Linked DNA regions of Homo sapiens. The protein of the gene in region 4 purifies or fractionates together with the protein of the main gene of each other region. This does not show direct contact. Each region holds a gene or a part of one and is shown on either strand. Other genes may lie near its edges. The genes, in order: NUP54, USP24, RABGEF1 and CPNE2.

The links.
Region 1: the proteins of CPNE2 (region 4) and NUP54 purify together in Homo sapiens (co-immunoprecipitation; 3 studies listed by BioGRID and IntAct, with this or other methods). This does not show direct contact.
Region 2: the proteins of CPNE2 (region 4) and USP24 purify together in Homo sapiens (co-immunoprecipitation; 3 studies listed by BioGRID and IntAct, with this or other methods). This does not show direct contact.
Region 3: the proteins of CPNE2 (region 4) and RABGEF1 purify together in Homo sapiens (co-immunoprecipitation; 3 studies listed by BioGRID and IntAct, with this or other methods). This does not show direct contact.

What each region holds. Positions count from the first base shown.
Region 1 is NC_000004.12:76,113,220-76,118,189, forward strand, and holds the end of NUP54 (nucleoporin p54), read right to left. Parts: coding exon 4,856-4,970; intron 4,556-4,855; coding exon 4,445-4,555; intron 2,276-4,444; coding exon 2,147-2,275; 3' UTR 1,445-2,146; downstream 1-1,444. UniProt on the Homo sapiens protein: Component of the nuclear pore complex, a complex required for the trafficking across the nuclear membrane.
Region 2 is NC_000001.11:55,065,859-55,072,364, forward strand, and holds the end of USP24 (ubiquitin carboxyl-terminal hydrolase 24), read right to left. Parts: coding exon 6,459-6,506; intron 6,067-6,458; coding exon 5,956-6,066; exon of another isoform or gene 5,701-5,955; intron 5,601-5,700; exon of another isoform or gene 5,540-5,600; intron 3,250-5,539; coding exon 3,187-3,249; 3' UTR 501-3,186; downstream 1-500. UniProt on the Homo sapiens protein: Ubiquitin-specific protease that regulates cell survival in various contexts through modulating the protein stability of some of its substrates including DDB2, MCL1 or TP53.
Region 3 is NC_000007.14:66,770,845-66,779,580, reverse strand, and holds part of RABGEF1 (rab5 GDP/GTP exchange factor), read right to left. Parts: intron 7,699-8,736; coding exon of another isoform or gene 7,682-7,698; coding exon 7,503-7,681; intron 5,891-7,502; coding exon of another isoform or gene 5,754-5,890; intron 4,355-5,753; coding exon 4,188-4,354; intron 1-4,187. UniProt on the Homo sapiens protein: Rab effector protein acting as linker between gamma-adaptin, RAB4A or RAB5A. Involved in endocytic membrane fusion and membrane trafficking of recycling endosomes. Stimulates nucleotide exchange on RAB5A. Can act as a ubiquitin ligase.
Region 4 is NC_000016.10:57,088,317-57,095,582, reverse strand, and holds the start of CPNE2 (copine-2), read right to left. Parts: upstream 3,001-7,266; 5' UTR 2,793-3,000; intron 1-2,792.

The DNA.
Region 1 (4,970 bases), on a different chromosome or scaffold from region 4:
ACTGAGTCTAGTTATCTCACCAGTTATATGCTCAAGGACCACAGGCCTGCCTTATATATGCAGTCACCAGTGGGACAGAAACCCAACAGGATGACTGGGCCTGCCTTTTTAAAAGGCTGACCTTAGGCCCTGTCTGGTATATTTATCTGGTTGAACTAGCAACCAGCAATATTAGAACATGAAAAATCAAAGGCTAGAGAAGCGACCATGGTATGCATGATGAGTGATCCATCCACTAGATTATATAGCTCAGTGAGTAACAATTCTCATCAATTAGACCAACAACTCTTCCTACTATAAGGGGGTGTGCAGAGGGACAAAAACTCCTATACTTGGCTACATGGGTAAGAATGATGGACATGCAGATCTTCTGGGCCACGGAGAAAATGTGGACAAGGCAAGAAATTCCTGTCCCAACACTGTTGGTATTGCAATATAATGGGTAGGAAAGAATGATGAGAGGGTAGTAGAGTAGTGTAACAAATTTACACACCATAAACTTGGCAAAAGTAGCTGCATACTTCTGGCAGTCAATTTGGAAAGAAACAATCAGTTTTAAAGTTCCTAGTCTTGGCCAGGCATGGAGGTTCAGGCCTGTAATCCTAGCACTTTGGCAGGCCAAGGTAGGAGGATTGCTGGAGTCTAGGAGTTCAAGACCAGCCTGGGCAACATAACAAGACCCCATCTCTACACAAAATAAAAAATAATAGCCAGTTGTGGTGGTGCATGCCTGTAGTCCCAGCTACTCAAGAGTCTGAGGTGGGAGGACTGCTTAAACCCAGGAGGTCAAGGCTGCAGTGAGTCGTGATTGTGCCACTGTACCCCAGCCTGGGTGACAGAGAGACTTGTCTCAAAAAAAAAAAAAAAAAAAAAAACCCACAAAAAATCCTAGTCTACACAACTGTAACCTATACAACTGAGGAGAAATCTCTTCAGTGGATTCTCAGAGGATGGACTCCAGATAGATATACAGTGCATCACACTCTTCACCATCCCCATAGTAAATACAATAGCAAGATTCATGGGCCTGTTTCTTCTAACACCTGTCAATACAAGCCAAAGCATCACAGAGAAGTGCAAAGTTAAAGCATCTCAAAAGCGGCCAACATGATGCAGCCCAAATATAGTGTAGTCAGAAATACTGTTTAAAATGATCCACTGGTTAAAGACCCACTATTTAACACTACTTAATCTGTTTAACTCAGATTTTCTAGTATTTCGAATACTAATGACATATTAGGGAATTCTTAATACTAGATGATATCTGAAGTAAGTTTTACTTGCCATACCCTAATCAAAATATAACAGCACTGACAAAAATCCCTAGGAGGCAAAAATAAGACTTAAGACTAAAATTCCTGACTTGTGATTATGAATTTAGTACCTATGTGGACAAAAAATGGTCATTCCTCAAAAGCCAAATAAAGCACCAGACAGAATTATATAAAAGTAATTACAAATTAAGAATTTATTTATAAGTTTTCATCTTTTTAGAAATAAAAAGGCTTAAAAAACAAAATGGTTGCAAAAATGGTTAAGTAGTTTTGTTATATCCTAATTGCTTAGGTGTGCTCTGTAAATTCCAAATAAGTAAAATAATATAAAAATACATTTTCATATCTTTATAGAACAAAAACAAAACATTAAATGCTTTTGGATTTTCTTTACTCCTCCCACAGATGAGTTCACAAATACAAAAACTGGTGTACATTTATACTCAAGTACAAATCTCCAACAGCCAAGTAATTATAGTTTGTTCTGTTATGTGCAAAGTAGATTATTTCATATTTACTTGGTATGGAAAGCAGAGTACAGGCTCAATGGACAATAATCATTAAACACAGATTATGTTTAAGAAAATGCTGTTGTAAAAATGTACAATAGTACATACAATTTTGGTAATTATGCACTTCTTTTAAAGTAAATACAGCTTTTAGATATAAATCTTTCAAAGGTTTTCTTTGAAGAGCTGTGAGGTGACTATTTCAGATTTGATGAACAGTAATTTGTCAGTAAACTTCTCAAAAAACCAATCCAAGAAAGAATTGTTTTCTTTTTCCCTCCATGTGGTCGGTTTCATTCTTAAGGAAGGTCTGATGCAGTAAGAAGATGCATTTCACAAACCTTTACACAAGTTTGTGAACTGTCAACTAAAGACACCACCTCTGATGTGGATGGTTTCATTCAATCCATGTTCGACCAGCTTTATATCTTCTAGATCGTCTTTAATGATGCTAATCAAATGGCTAAGGCCTTCCTGTTGTTGTTTCAAATGCTAGAACAAATTAAGAAACAACATATTAATGTATTAATTTCTTAAAACTGCAAGCTAGTCACAGGAAAAAAGACTCCACTTTGACTATTTTACTAGCAACACAGTACCTAGTAAGTGCTCTAAATATAGAGGGCATGCATATTTAAACATTTGTACTACATCTTTTGCTAACAGTGAAAGACAAACTCTAAAGAACAATAAAATCAAACAAATATATAATGAACAATATCTTCCAACAAAAATGTTTTTTAGATAGCTATTCCTTTTACCAACTTTTGATAAAGGCATGATAATAAAACAGAACTCAAAGGAGGTATTCAAATATAGATGACTAGCAAAATAACATTCTGAAAACTGAGAATATTCATGTTTTGAAGTACAAAGTACATAGTGATAATGGTGGTGATGACTACAGATGCTAACATTTTTTTAAGACTCCTCCTCATGGGTTAAGGTGCTGTTTTAACAGTACTGGTATTCACTCACTTAACTCATTTAAAATCCTTTTGAGCCCCCTTTGGGGTACCATTATCATCTCGACAGTTAAAGAAACTACAGGTAAATAACCTGCCCAAGGTCATAAAGTAGATGGTGAACCATGATTCAATCCCAAAACAATACACTGCTCATAATTTTAAAAAAGACAGGTGTTTAAATTATTCCCAGTTTTATTGCATATATCAACTCTATTTAATACAACTATTTATTTCAATATACTGGAACCTGTTAATTTATTGCAAATACTTAAAACAATGGAATATAATTGGTTATGTGTGTAATATCCAAGAACCTGGAAGCCAAAGTAGTTTTTGGTTGCATAAAACCAGCCATATCCATTCTAACATAATAAAATTGGATTTGTTGATGACATTTATAATCTTTATCTAAAATCCTCAGGGCCATGCCAACAGTCATTAGCTACCTAGTATGTTCCACAAAGTTCATCATCTTCATATATTTTCTTTAGATACAACTGTTCATTTTCATTAAACCAATCTGCATTTATACTAATGAAAATAAGCCAAAGCAGTGTTTCCCAACTTTTTCACACAATGTGAAAACCCTAGAAAAGTGGTTGGAGGTTCTGGCCACCTCAACCTACCTCCATCCAGATCTCCTGAGAGCTTAGGGGACAGATCAATAACCAAATGTTTATAACTTACATGCGACATATAGGCAGGGAAGGTATTATCTAGAGCAGTTGCTTCTCAAACTTTAAAGTGCATACAAATCATTCTATGATCTTGATAAAATGCAGATTGAGTACGTCTGGAGTAAGGACTGAAATTTTGCATTTCTAATGACCTTCCAGGTGCGGCTACTACCTACACTTTAAGGAGCAAGGTCTAGGAAACTTTAGTGTCTCTACTACCTCTAAATTCATCTTTTTGGCGAGGAGAGGGATAATTCACTTTTTTAAACAGTGGCAAAACAGGCATACCATAAAATTTTGCCTGTAACTATTTTTAAGTATACAGTTCAGTGGCATTAGGTACATTTATGCTGTTGTGCAATAATCAACACTATCCACTTTGTTTAGAACTTTTCATCTTCTCAAGTTGAAATTCTGTACCAGTTAAGTTCCTCCCATCCCCTCCTCCCCTCACACCCTGGCAACCACCTTTCTACTCTCTATTAATTGGACTACTAGGTACTTTTCATAAGTGAAATCATAAATATTTCCCTTTTATGAGTGGCTTATTTCATGAAGCATAACTTCTTCAAGGTCAAATTGCATTGTAGCATGTGTCAGAATTTCATTCTTTTTTCAAGGCTGAATAATATTCCATTGTGTGTCTATATACTACATTTTGTTTCTCTATTCTTTGATTGATTCTTGGGTTATCTCCACATTTTGACTATTGTGAATAAAGATGCTATGAACATGGGTGTACAAATATGTTTTGAGTCCCTGCTTCCAACGTACTTGGGTATATATCCAGAAGTAGACCTGCTAGATCATATCGTAATTCTATCTTTAATTTTTTGAGTAAACACTACACTGTTTTCCATAGAGGCTGAACCATTTTACATTCCCCCAACAGTGCAAGAAAGTTCCAATTTCTCCACATTCTCACTAACACTTTTCTTATTAGGATAATAGCCATCCTAATAGGTGTGAAGTGGTGAGCTCACACTTTAAATAATGCAGCCTCATGCAACACTTACCTGCTTGATTTCTCGTAACAGATCTGCATCTATGTAATACCTTTCTTCAGATCTGACTGCTCCAAAATGATTCTGCATCCTGATTTGAGACATCAATTCATTTAGTCGGCCCTAAAAGTTAAGACTGAGTCAAATTACAACTGCCGACGAAGACTTGTAAAAGACAATGTTTTCTTCTGAAAGGATGGTTTCAAAACCATCTATTAAAAATTTCTATTTCTCTCTCTGTACATTATATTCGAAACACTAATACTAGCCAAAAGAACCATGACTGAGTTTACTTTAGAAAGGAAGTTCTAATTGGAGATAAGAAACACAAGTATACAAAATTCCTGCTTGAAGATTACATAACTTTTTGTCTGCAGATCCACCTGAAACAAATTTTAGAATTATGGTCTTAGAAGTGGTTACCTTGAACTGAGTAGGTGCATTTAGTTCACCCTGAATCGTATCCAGCTGAACTCGCAACTGCTCTTCATCAGCCTGAATGGCATAACCACTCTTCCTTTGAATTTCCTGTTTGATT
Region 2 (6,506 bases), on a different chromosome or scaffold from region 4:
CACACCCTGACAGCTCTGTGATGTTGGAACAACTTGGTTCTTGCAGAGGGTTAGCAGGTGGTCACCAGGGATCGGGGAGGAAGGGGTGTGGCTTGCAGGAAGGCGAAAATCTGGACTAGCAAATAGGGAAGGGGACCCATGTGAGCAACGCTGGCCACTAGGAATGAGACTGAGACCTGTGGGATCTAGCAAGAAGCCCAGTGTGACCAGCGACACGATCTATGCTGGGGACCACTTGGGAGAGCCAAAAGCTTTGGTGGAGATGAATGGAGACCATCAACCTAAGTTCAGCATCCTCCTCTAAGCTTTGCAGATGAATCCTGAAATGGTCAGCCCCTCCAGAGAAAAGAACAGCAACAGGCTCAGAGGACCCACAGTCCCCTTTATTAGTGTAAAGTACTAAGAGGAATCAACAGCATTTAGCACCAGGCACAGGCTCGTGTTCCCCCGCCCACTACGGCTGTGTTCTGATATATGAAGAATGGCGGCAAGACTCCAACTCTGTTTTTGAAAAATTTATTTTATACTCTTAGAAGCTAAGAACTTTGCCACACATGAACCAAATTTAGAATTAAGGTTCTTCCCTAGTGTATCTACTTCCTTTTGAAATTTTATAAACAAGATTTTATACACAAGAGGTAGCAGAGGAAAATTCCAGTCTGCTTGTTCCAAGCTCAGAAGGTAACTGCACACACCTCGATGTTAGCAGGGAAGGTGGGGCAGGACAGGGTAAGTCTGATGATACGGCACTCTAGTTCCTAAAACTGACTGTAGTTGTCAGTGACCGTGTGAGGACTCCAGGAGAAGTCGTGGTGAGATGCCCGCTGGGATGCTTGTTTTCTTTCCCAGGATGCCTTCAACGGGCAGAATCGGCCATCTTAAGATCGGCCTCACTAAGGGAGCTTCTTGAGAACACACAGCATTATTGAGTTAATTGTGCAATTCCTGCTCTGTTTGCAGACCATTTTGAAAGGTTTATAAAAACATCTTCATCCAAAAAATTGGCAGTAAAAATGACAACTCTTCCAAGGTAAGCCTGTCATAACTGTCACTGTTGTACTACATTAAAAAAAGTCATCAGCAGGTTCATTGACTGTAGCTGTCAGCAATCAAGTGGTTACCAGCAAAGTGAAAACGATGGTCATTGCAGCAACAATATAAGCAACATGATCTGAAGCGTATAATATACACGGTGGACGATCCTGATGAAGCTTTACAGTGAGGACGGCAGGTGCTAGGGGTGCGGAAGGCGTTGTTTCCATAGGAAATAAGGGGACTAGAAGTGGCAATTTCACTCCTGATTTTGGGCTCCTGAGAGTGCAGTCGCCAGCGATGATATCCCAGTGTGGATCATCGCCAGCATTTCAAGGTCATGTCCCACACAATCTCTTGGTGAGGATGTGGGCGGAGAGAAGGTGAGAATAGGGTAGGGGAAACAGTAGGACAGGAAGTATTCACGTACTCAAAACCAATGGTAGAACATCACATTTCAAACTGCAAGACCATTGGAACCGTCTGAAGTTTGCCACTCGCCTCTGTCCGTTTCTCTAAGGGTACAGTTCTGCTCTTAAGTGCTGGCCCTTCCATCTTCTCAGTGTGTTTGACAAAGGCCACTGCCAACCTCCAGCAAGTCACAGAATAACAATGAAGTCTGACAGCACAGAAACCCTCACTGCCAGAGAATGAAAAGACTGGGCCATGGCGAGAGCACAGTAATGAGATGCCATCTGCCTGGCCACATGCCCACACAATGCCACAGCAGCCAGACAGGCACTTCAGGGCTGGCTGCGCCTCTGTGACTTGGCAAATCTGACAGTGAAAACCTGGCACTTCCTAAGGCTCCCTAGTTCTGTGCATGGTGAGATGAAAATAAGGCAGGACCTGTAACTAAAGGCAAAACAGGGCCGAAAATGTGAGCAATTCAAAATACAAAATGTACAAAATATATATGAAATATGTGGGTGTAAACCTCTCCCCCACACCATAAAAGGGAGCTGGTATAAATGAGTGAATGGTGCTATACTTTGGAAATACGACTAAATGGATGGTTATTCAATTGCTTTATATTTATTTCTGGGAAAATAAATCTTAAACCTTGACTGACTTTTCAGTGTTAATTAGTCATGTTGAGGAGAAACAAATTCTCAAATTCCTTCTCTGCATTACAATAACTATGAAACTCACAAGCAGTGTGTACCAACTCAAATAGTTAACTTCATATACAACCAATACCAAGGGTTTCAGTAATTATGTTTTAAGCAAAAGCAAACGATTGCAGATCACATGATTTAAGACTACAGTTTATTCAATATGTCTCCAAGCATTAAAAAGATAATTCTGTGAAGTTAAACTCAGTAAAATTATATCTTAAAGTGCTTTTATTTTGCTGTTTTTAAAATCTGTTTGGGGAACAACTCATAACTTCTTTAAGTAATTGATGTCAAATAATGCACCCTGTACTTCTGGAGAACACAGCATTTTCAAAATTGCTCTTTTCAATCTAATTATATCAGAAAAATATCTTCAAGAGCTTAGTATTTCCCAATTTTTGATCCTGATCCTGGTAACCTTTCATCAAGATCCAAGCTTATGCATAGGGTTCTCATCTAGACCCATCTGAAATTCTATACAAATAGGGAGACATATTAAATACAAAGGTCTGTGTAAATTGACTTAATTACTATTTTACAATGAAAAGGAATTTTATTACATCTTTACATCATTTTAAATTGGATATTCCTGTTTAATATTACTGCAAGATTAAAAATTTGCCCCCACATATCTAAAAGCAGCTTGCTTTTTCTTAAAATATAAAAACCAAAGGAATTTCTTTTGTAGCATCGTAGAGAAAGCAACAGCTTTATGCTCACTCTTGTATGTTCGTGTAACAAAAAAGTCTGCCACTGGCTCTATTTCCGAAAATCTCCACAGAAATGTGAATCCACATATAGACCACGCTCCCGGGACAGCTGATCCACATGCCGGAGTTCTCCCACTGCCAAACAGCTCCCAAACCTTCTAGTGGCTTAAAAATGCTTTCCTTGAGAAATACACGATCCGCCCAAGTCACAGCAGCTTTCCCAGTCCAATCTCCAGGCTCTTCCAAAGGGTTCGAGATTCTGATTCCAAGAAGGTGCTGAGCATCCAGTATTGTGTCTTGACTCCTCTCAGGCTGGGCATGTTCCTCTAGGGATCAACATCATCAAGGTCACTTCTCAACTCACCAATCATCATGGGAGATTCTGAACCCTGCAGAAAAGAAAAGGAAGTTAAAGTTCATACGGTTAGAGAAAAGGTTTTCTATGCTGACTTGTGTTCTGCAATTTAAACATGTCTTCATCTGGCAACTTAATGCAATGTTTATCAAAGGGTAATAAAATGTGATAACTATTACATCTAATATTTGACAATTCATGATTATGTAAAACATGTACATTTCTATGATCTCATTTAGTCAGTGAAACAACCCAGCGACTTGTCTAAAGTCACAATGCTACTCTGCACCCATGTGAGAACGCAGAGCAGTGATAAAGCTGGGAGAGGCATTGATGGCCATTGTGCCCGCTTCACGTTGGGCACTGTGTGAGCCTCCCTGCCCTGCACCTGCCAAATATGGGCTCTGGGTCACTCCTGGGTCTGAAGGCTACCTCTGTTACCATCTGTGTGGCCTTTGGCTTACACACTTGGCGAATCGTTCTGAATACTCACCGTGTGCCATGGGGCTGATCTAGTTGGAGCTGGGGTGGGGAGGAGCAAGGACAGTCTCTCTAAAGTGACAACCTAAGCTGAGTGAGAGTTGGGGGTGAGTAGGGGGGCCCTGAGGTGGAAGGAAGAGAGTACATTTGATAAATAAAATTCAGAAAATGGGCCAGGCACAGTCGCTTATGCCTGTAATCCCAGCTACTTGGGAGGCTGAGGCAAGGAGAATCGCTGGAACCTGGGAGAAGGAGGTAGCAGTGAGGTGAGATTGCACCACTGCACTCCAGCCTGGGTGACAGAGCAACACTCCATCTCAAAAAAAAAAAAAAAAAAAAAAAAAAAATCAGAAAATGGGGGTGGGGAGGTGCGCAGGTGCTAGATCAAGCAGGACTGTGTTGAGGATTCTGGCTTTTCTCCTCATACAAAGCCTTTGAAAGGTTTTAGTGCATGAACCAGAGAGAAGCAGGGGTGGAGGTGAGGGGATCCTTACAGATGTAGGCAGAGAGGGGCTGATGACAGGTGGAGGAGAGGGACGAGCACCCTTTCAAAGGGAGCTGTCCGGGATGACATGGGGGTGCTGTGTGTGAGATAAGGAACACTGACGGAGGGCCAGCTTTGGTGGGCGCAGGGAGGAGGGGCTGGGCACATCGAGTCTGAGGTCTTTAAGGTATGCCAAGTGGAGAACGTCAAGAACAAGAGAGCTGGATGTTCATGTTCAGAAATCCAAGGTGGGTGCGGAGAGAATATGGAGTGAGGGCAGGAGGATACAGGTTAGAGACTCCACAAACCTTTACTGGTGGTCCAGAAGAGGCAGTACTAGGAAGGAGACAGAGAAGGAACAGCCAGAAGGGTTTGAGGAAAACTACGAGAGAGAAGTGTCAGGAAAGCCCTGGAATAGTGTTTCAAACGGGAAGAGCGCCAGGAGCGCTAGATGCTGCCGAGCAGTCGGCTAAGATGAGGCCTGAAAGCTGCAGGCCACCTGTCACCCCAACTGCTGAGTTGGAGAGAAGAGGGAGTTAGCAGGGAAGAGGCTGAAGAGCGAGTGAGAGATAAGAAAATGGGGAAAGTTAAGTTTAGAGAATTAGTCGAAGTTTGGCTGCAAAGAAGAGAAAAGAAGGCAGGGGCAACAGGGAGAAGAGAGGCTTTGACAGGGCAGAAGAGAGGCTTTGACAGGGCAGAAGAGAAACCAGTGTGCTGAGACGTCGCTGGGAAGGGTCTGGCAGGGTGGAGCGTTCTGGATATTGAAGAGTTACATACACATTAGAACGCAAAGCTCTGCCAAGGTGGGCGGGGATGAGCGCTAGGGGCTTTGGGTGGACAGAGGCAAACTTCCCACTGTCACAGGAGAGGAGACAAGAACAGTGCAGATGCTTGGGAATTAGTGGCCGCAGGAGCTCTCCTGTGACAGCTTTTATTTTCTCTGCAAATGAAGTAGGTGATGAGGTAATGTGTGGAGTGACCTTGGGCTAAGTCACATCACTGTGCTGGGCTGCAGTTACCTTTCTGTAAAATCAGGGTGACAGCTGCCTCACATAGTGCTTATGAGGATCCGAAAGATAACACTTAAAAAAAAATGACACCTACTACATCAGTAACATTCATTTAATGGGGCCTATTCTGTACCAAGTACTGTGAAGGGACCACAGAGGAGACTGCTGTTAAGGAAAGTTACAGACTATTGGAAAGACGTAATGATTAACTGACACTTAGTTCAGTGTTTGCACACAGTGGGTGTTCAATACATATTTATTTTCTTTTTCTACTATAATGATTGGTATTAAAGCTGTTTTTTTTTCTTTTTTTAAAAATACATGTCAAAATTTTCTTGGACTCCCCTGGCAAGCAGGTATACTTCAAGAGCACGGGAGCTTTTCTTTCAAGAGTCCACATTTCCAGGAAGGCTGGTGAGAGCAAACGAGGGACTTTCAGTAACCTGGCAAGGCAGAATAAAGTGAACAAGCTGGAACGAATCCCCCTGTGCCCTGGCTTCATCGGGACTACCTGCAGGCTGATCAGGGTGGCCAGCCACAAACACCTCGAGGCCTTCCATTCACTTCACACTGCAGCACTACTCAGCCCTGTAAACACACGGTTAGTGCATATGCTGAGCTGAGATCACTAGAGGGCAGCGCTGGTAACTCTTTGGACTCACATTCCAGAGGAAGCATCTTGTTTTCCCTCAGCTGTGGAAATTCTTTTTGGAAAGCTTAAGAGCAAGGCTGCCCTTTGCACACAAGGACATGCTGACCGTTATACCTGCTGTAGATGCCTGTCTCCGTTCTCATTGGCAGGACTACTCTCCGACCCATTACTGCTTCCTGATTGCTCTTTTTCATTCAACAAAGCTGTGGCATACGCTAACGTGTCCTGCAGAAGATTCAAACACAAGACGACAAAGTTAGGGCCCATTCAGTGGCAGCAGCAACCGCCAGGGAAGACTACCTTTCATCTGACCTTCAGTGGGACCGGAGGCCTGAGAGTGAGGCCTTCATCACAGTCACCAGAACCCCCTCAACCCCTGTCCCTTTTTGTGACCAGACTGCCCAACCTGTATGACTTTCCTTCTAGACAAATAATCTGCACAAATTTGTGTAAGTGTACACCAATCTGTTTTCTTTTCATAGAAATCCAATTGTTTCTTCTGCTTGTTCTCATCTTCAACTCATACCTCTCTTCTCAGAGGTTGCAGTTTCTGAGAAACACACTGAAAATCCTCCATAAGTGATTTAGACCACGCAAAAACAAGAGACAACTCTCACCTGAGCTGAAATGGTTCGCTGAAAGGTTTTTCCAGTTGATGTTTCATT
Region 3 (8,736 bases), on a different chromosome or scaffold from region 4:
CCCATCTCAGCCTCCCAAGTAGTTGGGGCTACAGGCACTAGCCCAGCTAATTTTTTAATTTTTTTTTCTTTTTTTAAAGATGGGGGCCTCACATTGTTGCCCAGGCTGGAGTGCAATGGCACGATCTTGGCTCACTGCAATCTCCACCTCCCAGGTTCAAACAGTTCTCCTGCCTCAGCCTCCCAAGCAGCTGGGATTGCAGGCACGTGCCACCACCCCCAGCTAATTTTTGTATTTTTAGTAGAGACAGGGTTTCACCATGTTGGCCAGTCTGGTCTCGAACTCCCGACCTTAGGTGATCCACCTGCCTCGGCCTCCCAAAGTGCTGGGATCATAAGCGTGAGCCCCTGTGCCAGCCGTATTTCTCTATTTTACTAAATTAACACACGGATTATGATTTTTGTTCAATCAGTTATACTTCATTTATTGTCCTTATTTATAGATTTCTTCATTTTATTTTATTTATTTTTTAAGACGGAGTCTCACTTTGTTGCCCAGGCTGGAGTGGCACGATCTCAGCTCACTGCAACCTCCACTCCCCGGGTTCAAGCGATTCTCCTGACTCTGACTCCCAAGTAGCTGGGATTACAGGCGCACACTTCCACACCTGACTAATTTGGTATTCTTAGTAGAGACGGGGTTGTGCCACGTTGGTCAGGCTGGTCTCAAACTCCCAACCTTAGGTGATCTGCCTGCCTTGGTCTCCCAAAGTGCTGGGATTATAGGCCTGAGCCACCGTGCCTGGCCTTATTGTCCTTATTTATTTTGACATTCAAATTATCCCAGACTTGGCCAGTGGAAACCCCTCCAAGCTGGCTTCTGGATCTTCTGAAATGTCCCCAAAATATTGAAGGGGCCCTTTTTTCCCTACTCTAGCCCCAGAATCAGTCACTTCTCCAAGAAGCCCTGATTCACTTTAATGAATAATAGGTTTACTTTCTAAGGTCTGGGTGGTATTGGTATTTTAACTCTAAAAATGAAAAGATATGCTTTAGAGAATCACCGTCTTCAGATCCGTTCATGAAAGAGGTACACAAGATTCTACTTGGAATGACAACATTATAGGAGTTCTGAAAGAAAAGGGCACTTTGGAATGTATAAGCAAGTATCTCAGCTTGGTCAACCACTATGACTTCCTCTATACAGCTCACTCACCCTGACTGTAGAGACTAAAACACTTTAACTGAGTCTTTACAGTCAAGACATTCCATTTACTTTCTCTGAAGGCGTATCCAACTCTAAAAGAATGTGAAGATATTCTTCAAATTCCTTAGAAGGTTATTTGTATTTTGTCTGCTACCAAGCTGCTACGTATGGCATAAAAACTTTCCTTTATGCTACTAACAGAAGCAAGTAAAACACCAACAGCAAGGGTATCATGGACTAAGGAAGATTCAAGAATACAGAATCCAAAAAGTCTGTTTCTAGTCTAGACCTAATACATTAAAACGGCACTTAGGCTAATCTTATCCAAACACAATGGCCAAACAAAAGTAATCAGTGTGAAATGCAAAATTTACCTGGCTAAGTTATATTAAGTGATCTGTGAAACAAAGATACAATGGAATCTTCTTTTCTAACATGAATTTTTAAAATACTTTAAGGTCTTTATCCCCAAAGCTTTCTACAGACAAAAAGCAACTAAAGAACAAACAATCTAAAGTACAAATCTATCATTCAAAAAGATGGGGGATGAGGGGAGACAAGAACAAAGGTAAAAATCATTCTGCATACATATTTTTAAAACAAAATTCACCTGGATTCTTTATTAATTAATTAATTTTTTTAATGTTGGTGTCTCACTCTGCTGCCTAGGCTGGAGTGCAGTGGCACAATCAGAGCTCACTGCAGCCACTAACTCCTGGGCTCATGTAATCCTCCTACCTTAGTCTTCCAAGTAGCTGGGATTATAGGTAGGTAGAAGCCACTGCACCCAGCTCCAGAAATGTTTCTTTTTAAAGTACAGACTCTGCATTGAATTGTAAATTTTCTTTCAATAGTATAATGCACACTGTACAGAGGCTTTTGGGACACAGGTTTTTAAAACCACCAAGGAGAGTTAGCAAATATAAATGACAATTATGTACTTAAGTAACAGAAACTTAATTTCATATATATATATTATTTATGATATATATTAAATAACCTGGGCTTCTGAAGTATACACATTGGATAAAGGAATATAATGGAAAAATATTGACCCAGGAATTAGGAGACATGAGTTCTCATGCACAAACTCATTGTGCAACCTTGGGTAAATTAGTTAACCTTTATGGACTTTCACACTGTCCTCTGCAAAATGAGGCTATTGGAGCTGATAATTTTATACTTGTTTTACTATTTCATCTGTTATCATAAATACTTATCATTTCACTACATATCATCAAGAAACAGACCTTAAGCTAAATAGGAATGAGTATTCTTCATAGCAAATGCCCTTGTGCTCCCTGCAAGATAATTCTATCAGAAGAATAACTTGCATTTTAAAACAGCTAACACTTACTGGAGATCTACTGTGTGTGTCAGGCACTGTGCTAAGCTCTTTACATGCATTAACTCACTGAATCCTCATCACGTGCCTCTGGTAGGTATTATTGTCCCTCAGTGTGGACAGGACTCGGAGAGGTTAGTCTGTCCAAGGTCACAAAGCTGGTAAATACAAAGCTAGGGCTCAAACCAGGAGTGACTCCAAAGTCACCTTACTACCTGGCTATTCCACCTCCTAATAAATAAATCATGAGCCCAATACATTCTTATTTAATCTCTGGCAGGTACTAATTTTTCCCCCCTTTTTCGTAGAGATAAAATTGCTACAACTGGCAGCCAACCAAGAAACAACTTCAAATTAATCATGTAATCAATCTTTTTTCTTTTCTTTCCTTTTTTTAGACAGGGTCTTGCTCTGTCACCCAGGCTGGAGTGCAATGGCACGATTTCGGCTCACTGCAACCTCCTCCTCCTAGATTCAAATGATTCTCCTGCCTCAGCCTTCTGGCCTCAGCTGGAACTACAGGCACATGCCACTGTGCCTGGATGATTTTTCTATTTTTTGTAGAGGCGGGGTTTCACCATGTTGCCCAGACTGGTCTCAAACTCCTGAGCTCAGGTAATCCATCTGTCTTGGCCTCCCAAAGCGCTGAGATTACAGGCTTGAGCTACCGCACCAGGTCTGGTATCCATGTCTTAAAGAGAGGTGTGTTTTTGGTTATGAGCAATATTTCCTTTTAATAAAACAAAAGGAAACAGCAAAAGTCACAAAACCTAGAAGACCAGCAAGTATCTTAAGAAGTAACACTGTCTTATTATTCATTCCCCGGCCTTCAGGGGAGACCTCATTACAATTACCCCAGGGTAGGAACTGGGGAGCAAGTGAGGGGGCTCCCAGAGAACAGGTCTTCTGACAGCATCAGTGTTGGTTCCCAGTCTCCCTCATTATTTCGCTTTGACTGCATAACTCTGAGTACCAACATAAATTTTCAAAGACAGACTGAGGCCTAACAACAAAGAGTCTTTCTTGCTTCATGTTGGGCCACTTCAACTAGCTAGTCTGCTCAATGGTAGAACAACTGTGACTTAAGTGACAATCCTCTTGCTGGTTATATGGCATTTTAAAAAGCAGGGTGAATATGATCACCTACATACAAATCCATGCACTGGAAAATAGCTACTATGGCTCACTTTCATCCCCCCAAGAGCCCAACTTGGGCCTTTTCCTATATGTTCTCAATACACTTCCTCAAGACACAAGCTGTCTCTCAAATAAGCTCTCAGGCAGAAAATCTCTCTCTCAGATGACTATCAAGCCTAGAAATCACCATTTCTGACAAGCTATGAACAGTGAGGGTATTATACCACAGAACAAACCAGGATCCACAAATAAAGGCACAAAAACCAAAACATCCAAAGAGATAGTCATTTGGATGGGGATGAATTTCATAAGCAAAAGTACCTATTTCAATTCTCTTGATTCCTCCTATAAACAAATTTCTCTAAAACACAATGTCTTTCAACCAAAGAGAGTATTGATTTCATATACTGTCTGACCCTCAAGCCCAATTTCAGTGTCAAATCTGAGCTGATGTTCTCAAAAAGTTGACAGAAATTACAAAGCTGAGCTTATGAGCATTGGGGATCTCCTCTGTGTCTCACTCAGGCAGAGAAGAAAAAAAAGAGTATCAGAACATTACCCTTCTTTGATCCGACCCTGGAAGATGCACTGAAGAATTTCTTCACTGTGGTAACCTTGCGGGTCTTCTCGTTGGTTTTCTTTTCTTCAAACTTGGAGAATGTGAGGGATTGGGCCCCTTGGCTGCTCTGACTGCTGGCAAAGGCCTCTTCTTCCTCCCGCTGGAGTCTGCAATTCAAGAGAGGATTAGAATGACCTAGATATTCTCCAAGGTTTCTCTGTATGTGAAGGTTATTACTCCATTAATTCAGGAGGATCTAAAGATTTTAGACCTAGAGACTAAATATGCCAAATCAGTCTGAGGTCTCACATTGCTACAGGATGGACGGCTCTTCATGCACTACAGATTTCAAATGGGGTCTTCTCATACTCATTCAGCTACTGCTCTAGGGTTACATGAAAGAAATCAAGTCTAATCCTTTTCCCTAACAAGCTCAAGGCTGGAACAGACAAAAAGGTAAGTAAACAACTGCTACAGAATGGGACAGCTGCTACATCAGAGAGTAAAAGTTGAGTGCTGTGAGAACACAGGAAAGAACAACTCAATCTGCTGGGGGAGTCTGACGAGGCTTTACAACGGTGATGTTTGGGTGAGGTCTTAAAGGATAAATAGGATCCTTTTTTTGGTTGTTTTTGAGACAGAGTGTCACTCCATCGCCCAGGCTGGAGTGTAATAGCATGGTATCAGCTCACTACAACCTCTGCCTCCCGAGTTCAAGCAATTCTCATCCCTCAGCCTCCCAAGTTATTGGGACTACAGGCGCACACCACCACACCTGACTAATAAGGCTGAATAGGATTCTAAGTGAAAGGACATTCCAGAAAGAAGGAACTACAAATGTGCAAGCCTGTGGTTTGCTTCACAACAAGCTGAATGTAGCCAGAGCACTGGGCGTGTGATGAACTGTGATGCTGGATATACAGGAAGGCTCCAGAGGGTAGGGAATCTTGATTGCTGAGCCCACTATTCTGGATTTCATCATGTGGTAGGGAAGCAAGAAAGACTGTAAATCCAAGGAGTTATCGCTGTCAGATCTGTACTTTAGAAAGATCATGCAGGTAGCTGTGTGAACAACTTGAAGGGTAGAGAAACTAGAGACAGGAACAAGAAGTAAGAGTATATTATAAAGGTTTAAGTAAAAGAAAATAAGCACCTGGAAAATAGGAGTACAAAAGGTAAAATTCAAAAGACTTTTCTGAGTTGGAAGAAATAGAACTTGGTCAAGTTGTAGCTAGCATGGGAGATAAAAGAGAAATCAAGAATGAAACCAAGGTTTTTTAGCTAACTTGGTAAGTAGTGATGCCATTAATTGACTCAGGAGAAGGGTTAGGAGGAAAATGTTCAGAATGCGGAGAATAATAAATAAAAGCAATAAATTTGGCTTTGGATTAGCTGCATGTGAACCACCTGTATTAATTCCCAAACACAGGCCAGGTGCAGTGGCTCACGCCTGTAATCCCAGCACACTGGGAGGCCAAGGCGGCCGGATCACTTGAGCTCAGGAATTTGAGACCAGCCTGGGCAACATGGTGAAACCCTGTCTCTACATAAAATACAAAACTTAGCTGGGCATGGTGGCATACTTCTGTAGTCCTAGCTACTTGGGAGGCTGAAGCAGGAGGATCACTTGAGCCCAGGAAGCAGAGGTTGCAGTAAGTTGAAATTGCACCATTGCACTCCAGCCAGGGTAACAGAGCAAGACCCTGTCTCAAAAACAAACAAACAAACAAAAAGCACAAGCACTATCTAAAAGACAATGATTTTCCAAGTATGATTCCCCAGACAGCAGCGCAGCATCACCAGGCAACTTGTCAGAAATGCAAATTCTCTAGTCTTACTCCCAAGCCACTAAAATCAGAGACTCTGTGGGTAAGGTCCAGCAATCACTGCTTTTACAAGCTTTCCGAGAGATTTAGCAGGGTCACAATTAAAAGCAGTAAGAAATAGAAACAAAAATCACAGGTGGAGGTGCTAAGTCTGAGGGTGGAATCGGGACCCCTCTTTCTCTGGGACAGACAAGAAGTTAATATAAAGGTACTAGGACATTTTTATGTGGTGAGGGGAGGAAGCTGAGGGAGTTTGTGCCTAGTGGCCTCTACTCTGTTTTTGAAACAGGATCTGCTACTGACAGCATCAGGCATGCAGTGGAAACCCTGAGGAGATCATTCATGTTCTCGGCTAAAATTTTCTCTCTTTGATTGAACACAGTCACTGAAAGCAATGTGTAATTTCTAATTCTCTGAGTTCACTACAAATGACAGCAAAGGAGTCACTCAACAAATATTGGCTGACTGGATGAAAAAAAAAAAACAAACAACTAGCTAGAGGAGTTGGCAGAATTCCATTTGACTTTCTTCTGTTGAAGCAGTTTTAGAATTCTAGAATGCTCTGGCAAAGAATTAACATTATTCATGGCATTTTATTAGTTCCTATGCTCACTAGCCATCCCATCATTTATTTATTTATTTATTTATTTTTTTTTGAGACAGAGTCTCACTCTGTCTCCCAAGCTGGAGTGCAGTGGCATGATCTCAGCTCACTGCAACCTCCGATACCTGGGTTCAAGCAATTCTCCTGCCTCAGTCTCCCAAGTAGCTGGGATAACAAATGCGTACCACCATGCCCGGCTAACTTTTTTAATATTTTTAGTAGAGAGGGGGTTTCACCATGTTGGTCAGGCTGGTCTCGAACTCCTGACCTCAGATGATCCTCCTGCCTCACCCTCCCAAAGTGCTAGGATTACAGGCGTGAGCCACTGCGCCCGGCCCATCGTTTAATTTTTAACATCATTATATTTCCGGATAATACCAAATGCTAACCTAATTTTTAAATATAAGTTAAATTTCTACAATGCAATGACTATGTATACAAGTCAACAGATTTCTACTACTGTGTTTTATCACTGAGCTAGATGCCATGCTAAATATATATTAAAAGAATGAGGGAAATAATGCTTGATGAGTGCCATTTCCAAGCCCTGCAGTGGGTACGTCAAATTTATTAGCTCATTTAATCTTCACCAGGAAATATGCCTATCTCCATTCTTCCACTCCAAGGAGCTTATTGTCTACATTTGAGAACTAAAACTAACACAACCCAAAGAAAATAATCAGAAGACAAACACAAAATGAAGAAACTACTGAAAGCTGTTCATTAAAAGCTGACTGAGAAGAAGAGAGGAAAACATCCTTTTCCTTAATATTAAACTGACTTGCTGATAGCTCAAAGCAGAAGTGAAAAAATGTATTTAGACGGTGACAGAACTATGTATCCAGTCACGTCACTGTTCAACCGCCCCTAGTTAAGTCCTTTTACCGCTCCGCCAGCTCCCAGTCCTCCTGAATCTGCTTCTGCCTGGCTTTGTGGTACTCTTCCCTCCAGCACTTGGAGCAGAAACCCTGCCAGGCAGGGTTGCCGTAGTAACCACATCCTTTCTTGCACAGGAGATCCGATTGATCCACATGAATTCCTCGGCGTTCAGACTTAAGGCTCATCTTCTTCCTGCTAACCACTGAACAAACAAGAAAGTGCTGTTGAAAATGAATTATCATTCTACTAAATAAAATCTTACCAATTATGAACAAAAAGTGAGTGATTCCATTATCTTCAAGCTGTTAAGAGAGGGATGGAGGGAATGAAGGAGGGAGGGAGAAAGAGGAGGAAGGAAGAAAAAAGAATGTTAAATATAGTAAATTCCTGACACAGCCATATTAAAGAAAGACTTATTCCCTGCCCAAAATAAAAAATAAAAAATAAAAAATTAAGAAAGGACTCACATTAGATTAAAGACCTAAATGTAAAGGCTGCAAACTAGAAAACTCCTAGAAAAAAAACTTAGGGGAAAAGCTTCCCGACACTGGATTTTGCAATGACTTCTAGGATATGACACCAAAAGCACAGGCAACAAAAGCAAAATCAGACAAATACATTATATCAAACTTTAAAATGTCTGCACAGGCCGGTGTGGTGGCTCACACCTGTAATCCCAGCCCTTTGGGAGGCTGAGGAGGGCGGATAACAAAATCAGGAGATTGAGAGTATCCTGGCTAACACGGTGAAACCCTGTCTCTACTAAAAATACAAAAAAATTAGCCAGGCGTGGTGGCGGGCGCCTGTAGTCCCAGCTATTCAGGAGGCTGAGGCAGGAGAATCACGTGAACCTGGGAGGCAGAGCCTGCAGTGAGCCAAGATCACGCCACTGCACTCCAGGCTGGGTGACAGAGCAAGACTCTGTCTCAAAAGAAATAAAAAATTTTTAAAAATTAAATATCTGCAAAACACAGGAACCAACTGACAGGGTAAAAAGGAACAACACACAGAATGGGAGAACTTATCTGCAAACCATATATCTAATAAGGGGTTAATATCTAAAATACGAAGGAACTCCTACAACTCAATAACAACAACAACAACAACAACAACAAACCCAAATAATCCGATTAACAAATGGGAAAAGGACTTCAATAAACAATTCTCCAAAGACATACCAACAGCCAACAAATGTGAAAAATGCTCAACATCACTAATCATCAGGGAAATGCAAATCAAA
Region 4 (7,266 bases):
AAGAATCGCCTGAACCTGGGAGGTGGAGGTTGCAGTGAGCTGAGATCACACCAGTGCACTCCGGCCTGTGTGACAGAGCAAGATCCTGTCTCAAAAAATAAATAAATAAAAAATAAAAAAAGGAAGAAAGAAAGAAATATTCCAGGGTATGGAACAGCAGTCTTCTTGACTCTGCCATGGGAGTGACAGCCGAGGTCCAGTGGCCCAATGAGGGCAGAAGACATTGGGATGTGAGCCAGGAGGCGCCTCTAACCTGGGCTCTGTCCTCAGGCACTGTGGGACCCCTATGTCCTCCCTTCTGGACAGGGAGGTGGGGAGATGTGTGATTGTGGACTTTTCTAGATGCTGCCTGCCAAGATCACAGGGTGACCTGGCATCCCAGCTCCCACAGAGCCCACACCACCGTGTCTGGCAGGGTTGGGGGAGATCCCACCTCCACTCCCTGAGGCCATATTCTGCAAGGGGGAAGGAGCTGGGTCCTCAAGGTGTTTTGCTCCTGATTCGGTAGCCCCAGTGCCATCTATGAATAAGGTTCAGGGGAGGGGAGAGGGACAGAGACCTCCATCAGGCTGGGGGCACCCTGACCCTGAGCTGAGGGCTTCTCAGATCGGGACCGTGCCTGGCGATGATGCCTCCTGCTCTGACAGGAGGGAGAAAATTACTAGAGAGTGCTCTTTTGTTTTCTGTTCACTCCTTAGAGCCCTGTGAGGCCAGCCAGATGTGGGGAAATGGGGACACCTGGATGAGACCTACCACTTCTCCTGGTCTTCTTTCACCCCAGGCCCCTGCCCCTAGAACAGCCCAGAAGTCCTGACGGGAGGGGGAGGAGCAAGCTGGCCTGAGACAACCCCACAAAGGATCCTGGATGCAGTCACCCACATCAGGCTTCTTAATATTCCCATGGATAATGACAATGACAGTTAACCAGGCACTCACCACGTACCAATAAGTGCTGGCACCCGAGTCCTTGCAATCTAATTTAATCCTACCTTTGCAGAAATACACAATTACCTGAAAAGAATATGAAGGTGTATAGATATAAAAACTGAGGACTGGGAGGAGGACCAGATGGGGTCCAGTACTTACTGTTTTACAGACATAGAAACCGAGGCTCCATTCTCAGCCATCTTCTTCCCTTATGCCCCAGTTTTTAATTCTCATGACATTCCAGAGGGAGTGTCCGTTGGAACACCACCAGAGACACCACACTTGCCACTCATGAAGTGCTCCCTACTTGCAGAACGTCTGCTCCCTGTTCCCCAGTTCCAGCCTCCCAGCCGCCCTACTGTAAGCTGGATCATGTCACAGTTTGCCTCATTTTACAGACAGAAAACCCCCCAAGTCCAAGGGGTGACAAGGCACGCAGACAGGAAGTGACGGCCGCAAAACGAACCCAAGCGTCCACATCCTTCGTCCCTGGTTCTTTCCATGGAGAAACCTGCCTGGGTGACCCCTTCCAATCCAGCTGGCTGGGGCGGTCCTGGAGCTCACCTGGACCTATGCCAGGCGGAATGCCATAAAACCACGCCTTCATGCTGTGTCCATTCTCCAGGAGGCAGGCCCCGGAACATCAGCCCATTTCACAGATGGTGACCCAGAGGGCCACAGGGGGGGAGGGTCTGGGCCAAGTTCCCTGTTGGTCATAGGTGGGGTTCAGACCCAGGTCTCCCAGGCCTCCCCATCAGGGCAGGCTGCAGCTGCCAGGGATTACAATCTGCGCACACCGCCTGTTTCCTGAAAACCATGGGCTCCCTGCAGTCCGTGAAGCTGTGGATGCCCAAGGGGCAGAAAAAGCCCCCCAACCTTTGATGACAGCACACACCTCTAAGGGAGCAAAAAACTAAGGCAGACAAAAAAAAGGGCGTTTTGTCTGGAAGATCATTCTTCCAGACCCCTTGTCCCTTCCCCCAGTACATATGGGGCAGGGGATTCAGATGCAAGATGAACACCCTATTAGCTACCAGAGCCAGCAGCATCTGTGACCTTGGGCAAATCACAGCCCCCTTTGAAGCAGCCCCTTCCCCATAGGAGAGCTTCTTGAACTCGGGGGGACGTGGAGCGAGGCTGGGGGATGGGGTGGGAAGAGCAGGGAAGAGGGTGTAAGACCCCTCTATTTTCAGAGGAGCATCGCTGTGAGAAACGGGGAATAAGAGAGGGCCTTGTTCGCCCGCTCTCTCCATGCCCACCCCCACACCCCCTTTAAACACACAGGTGCCAGACAGCTTTTTCGCAAAAACTAGTTTGCAAACACACTCCGACTTCTGGGAAGCTGCCCAGCTCCACTCCCCCTCTGCGCTCCCAGTACCGGGGCTGGGAGCCGGCCCTCCGGCAGTTGCCTGGGGCAGGGGGTGGGTGTTGAGGGGTGGGAGGAGGGCAGAGGGGAGCGGAGAGGAGCCAGCGCCCGCCGAGAGCCAGGGCGACCTCACGCCTTCAGCAGCTGCGGCAGCGGCGGGTCTCCACCTCCCGTACGCCCTCCAAGCCCCTCGGGGCGGGTGGAAGGGTCCCCAAAGCAGCTGGGCTCGGACCCCCGAGGGCGCCCCCCTCCCCAGGGACCCCGCCCGCCCTTCCCCGCAGTCCGGGAGCCGGCGGGGCGCCCCCGCGTGGCCGGGTCGGAGCTGAGTCACCGAAGCGCCGGAGTCCGGGTTCGCGCTGGCGGCGGGGGCTAGAGCGCCGCAGCCCCCCGAGGCGGAACCCGGGTTCCTTCGGACCCGCAGCTGGATCAAAGAGCCCAGCCCCAAGGCCGAAGTTGGGCACTCACGCCAAGCTGCCCCGCCTGCCCGGGCCCCACTCACCGCAGGTCCCGCGGGCGCCACCGCCCTCACCGCACGGCTGCCGCTGCCCGCGCTCCGAGCCGCCCGGGCATCCCCGGGAGCTGCTCCTGCTCGGCCGGGCCCGCGGGCGCGGGACAGGCTCAGGGCGCTGCCCGCGCGGCCACGGCCCGCTCGCGTGCGCTCCCAGCCGCTCGGGGTCCGGTCCTCCTCCCGGGCCGGGCGGGCGGGCGGCGGCGGCGGCGGCGGCTCGGGCTCCTCCCTCCGGCCGAGGAGGGGAGTGGGGAGGGAAGTGGGAGGCGAGGCGGGAGCTTCCTGGAGGGGCGCGCGCTCTCCCACGGGAGGAGCGGGGGCGCTGTCCCGCCCGCAGTCCGCCGCTCCCAGCCCGCGCCCGGCGCGCCGCGGCACTCGGGGCGCCTGGCACCGAGGGGGCCCGAACGTTCGGGCCGAACGCGAGGGTCCGAAGGTTCCAGGCTGGGACTCAGGTGGCTGAGGATCGGAACAACGCGGCTTCGCGCCCTCCCCAGGCCTGCTTTGCCCGAGCCTCTGGCACCTCCGAGTTCCGAGCGCCGTGCGCTCAGGGCCACCGACGCGGGAACAGAGGGGTGGCCTCAGCCCGGGCCTGCGGGGCCCCAGGGCCGCTTGGACCCCCAGCGCCGATGGGAGCGGCGCTGCGCCCTCGGGGCAACACCCAAGGCTGGGTTCTGGGTTGTATTGGGCAGGATTAGGGCCGCAGTGTTTTCTTCCCTTTTTTTTTTCAATAGCAAAAGAGCTCGGCATTTTCTTGCCGCCAGAGATTGGAAATATGACATATTTCTCTGACACAGACGATAAGATAAAGACGGATCCGAACTGGGCCTGGGTCTACTCATCCGTGCGGAAAATTAGGCGAGTCTTTAAGGCCTTGGAGCCCAGGCCTCCTTTTCCCTAGAAGAGGCACCAATTCTTAGGACACTTGTCTGTCGCTGGGCGCTCAAGCCTTTGGCCACTCCGCGGTATTTAGGTGCTCTCTGGGCAAGTTCACCACCGGGCATCAGAAGGCTGAGCCTCACGTAACCAGATTCTGGGGGGCGGGGCTTTCCCGGGGATCTCAAGGCCATGTCCACAGCCCTTGGCCCTGGGGCTCAAGGACTGGGCAGCTGAGGGTTAATGCCGAGTGCTTCCATTGTGGCTTTTCGATTCCAGGCAGGTGAGGGTTAATGTGGGAGCCTCGCGCGCTGCAGCCTGTGAGCCTCCCTCCACGTCTGAGTCACTGGCACTTTGCAGCCTTACAGGGGCCGAGACTAAACAGCCCCCGGGGCTCTGAGCTTTGTTCTCTGCCTGCCTGTCACCCATCCATCTTTCCTTTCTCCAAGCTCTCTTCACCTTTCTTCCACCGAAGCCAATCAAAGCCCTCTGCCCCGCTCTGGGGCAAACCAACCTATCAACCCAACTCCAGCCCCGCTTCCTCCAGGAAGACTTTCCTGATTGCTCTGGCCTCAGAATCTGTCTCTTGTCTTTCCAGCAGCAGGAGAGCCAGGCACTGGGATGGACAGTGGTGAACCAAAGCAGATAGTCTCTCTCAAGTTGCTCACCTGTGGGGGCCAAGATCAGGACCCAGGCCATCATATCACCATATGAAATGTGCAAAGATTGGAGGTAGGGTGGCACAGAAGACCCAACTCAGCCATGGGAGTCAGCGAGGCTTCCTTTAAGAAACCTGAAGGATGAGATAGTTGGGCCTGTCAAGGAAGATACTAGATCCCTAGCCAAGGAGGCAGAGTACAAAGGCCAGGGGTCACAGCAATTCCACTCCTAGATATCTACCCGGGAGAAATGAAAACATATGGCCACACAAAACATACACAAATGTACGTAGCAGCATTATTCATAATAGCCAAAAAGTGGAAACCACGCAAATGTTCATCCACTGATGAATGGAAAAACAAAATGTGGTATATCCACACAACATAGAATATTATACAGCCATAGAAAGGTACGAATTACTGGCCAGTTGTGGTGGCTCACACCTGTAATCCCAGCACTTTGGGAGGCCAAGGCGGGCGATTACTTGAGGTCGGGAATTCAAGACCAGCTTGGCCAACATGGCAAAACTCTGTCTCTACTAAAAATATAACAATTAGCCAGGCGTAGTGGCAAGAACCTGTAATCCCAGCAATTCGGAAGGCAGGAAGGAGAATCACTTGAGCCCAAGAGGCGGAAGTTGCAGCCAAGATTGCGCCACTGTACTCCAGCCTGGGTGACAGAGGGAGATTCCATCCCCCCTCCAAAAAAAAAAAGAAAGGAAAAAAAGAAAGGTGGGAAGTACTGATACATGCTACAGTATGGACAAACTTGGAAAATATTATGCCCAGTGAAAGAAGCCAGTCTCAGACAAATATTACATGGCTCCATTTAGATGAAATGTCCAGAATAGACAAATCCACAAACAGACAAAGCAGATTTGTGGTTGCCTCGGCCGGGGAGTGGAGAATGGGGAGTGATTGCTATTGGCAAAGGGTTTCTTTGGGAGATGATAAAAAATGTTCTAAAGTTAGATTCTAGGCAGAGTGCGGTCCTGCCTGTAATCCCAGCACTTTGGGAGGCCGAGGCAGACAGATTACTTGAGGCAAGGAGTTCAAGACCAGCCTGAGCAACATAGTGAGACCCCACCATCTCTACCAAAAAAAAAAAAAAAATTAGCCGGGTGTGGTACCTGCCTGTAGTCCCAGTTAGGAGGCTGAGGTGGGAGGATTGCTTAGGAGGTTGAGGCTGTGGTGAGCCATGATCACACCACTGCACTCCGGCCGGGGTGACAGAACAAGACCCTGTATGAAAAAAAAAAAAAGTTAGATTATAGTGATGATTGCACAACTGTAGGTATTCTTAAAACCACTGACTTACACACTTTAAAAGGACAAATGTCATGGTGTATGGATTATATCCCCATAAAGCTATCTTTAAAAAAAAGGCCAGGGATCAGGAGAGCCCTGAAGAAGTTGATTAAGGCCAAGGATCCATCACAGGTTGATTCTACATGCTTTATCCTCATTCCACACCCAACACAAGACTGCAAAATGTTAAACGAAGTCTTTCCCTGCCCAGGTGGAGACCTCTCAGTGCACAGTGGGAGGCCTGAAGGCCCCGAAATAGACCCATGTCAGGGTATGTGTGTCAACACCTGCCATCTGGGTGTTTATTTTCACAGTCCAGGCTGTTTGGACAAACGGATCAGAATACCCAGGTTTGCCCATGCATGTCAGTGTGCTCGTGAATGAAAGACACATTGAAGGAGCGCCAGCTGTTCAGGGATCTGGCTGGGCCAGGAGTGTGTGAGGACTGGCGGAGGGAGGGTGTTCCAGTTATTTATGTTGCATCGCAGATCACCCCAAAACTTATCCCTCACACTTCCGGGGTCCTCAGGGCTCATCGAGGGCAGGTGTTGCACAGTGTTTCCCATACAGTTGCAGTCAGATCATGGTGGTGGCTGAAATTGTCTAGAAGGCTTTCTTGAACATATGGCTATCACTGGACGCTGGCTGTCATCTGGAACCTCAGCTGGAATTGTCAGCTGGAACACCTACCTGAGACCATTCCTTGTAGCCTGGGCTTCCTAGTGGCATGGCATAGGGTTCCATGAGTGAGCATTTCAAGAGAGGCAAGTGGAAGCGTTATCATCTGTTTCAGGCCCTTGCCTTGGGAGTCACATAATGTCACTTCTGTTGTAGTCACAGAGGGGTGTCACCGTCACATAATAGGAAGAGCATGTGGGACGGAAGATACTGTGATGGCTGTCTTTAGAAAATACCATGTGCCACAGGGGGTTGATATGGAAACATATCAGGATCCTTGAGGGATCCCCTCAAGGATCTCCTGGTTAGAGGCAGGTGTGGCTGACTCCATTGTCAAACCTCAGGCATGGAGTCATGGCCATGAGTTTGAATCCCAGCCGCTCAGCGGCTGCCTAGGTGAAATCACTCAATCCTCTGGCCCTTGCTCTCCTTCTCTGTAAAATAGGATAGACTTAGTATTTGCTTTATGGGATGGTTGTGAGAATCCAATGAGACAGAATTCAGTGAGACCGTAACGTGCCAGGCAAGTGTAGACAGCAGGGCTAGTGTATAATTGCTATTTTTTTGTTGTTGTTGAGACGGAGTCTCGCTCTGTCGCTCAGGCTGTAGTGCAGTGGCACGATCTCGGCTCACTGCAAGTTCTGCCTCCCGGGTTCACGCCATTCTCCTGCCTCAGCCTCCCGAGTAGCTGGGACTACAGGTGCCCGCCACCACACCCGGCTAATTTTTTGTATTTTTAGTAGAGACAGGGTTTCACCGTGTTGGCCAGGATGGTCTCGATCTCCTGACCTCATGATCCACCTGCCTCGGCCTCCCAAAGTGCTAGGATTACAGGCATGAGCCACCACACCCGGCCATATAATTGCTATTTTTTAAGTTCCAGGGTTGTGGTCACTCTGATGCAGGGACGGTCCCTTTCTAGGATCAGGATACCCAGACTTCTCCAG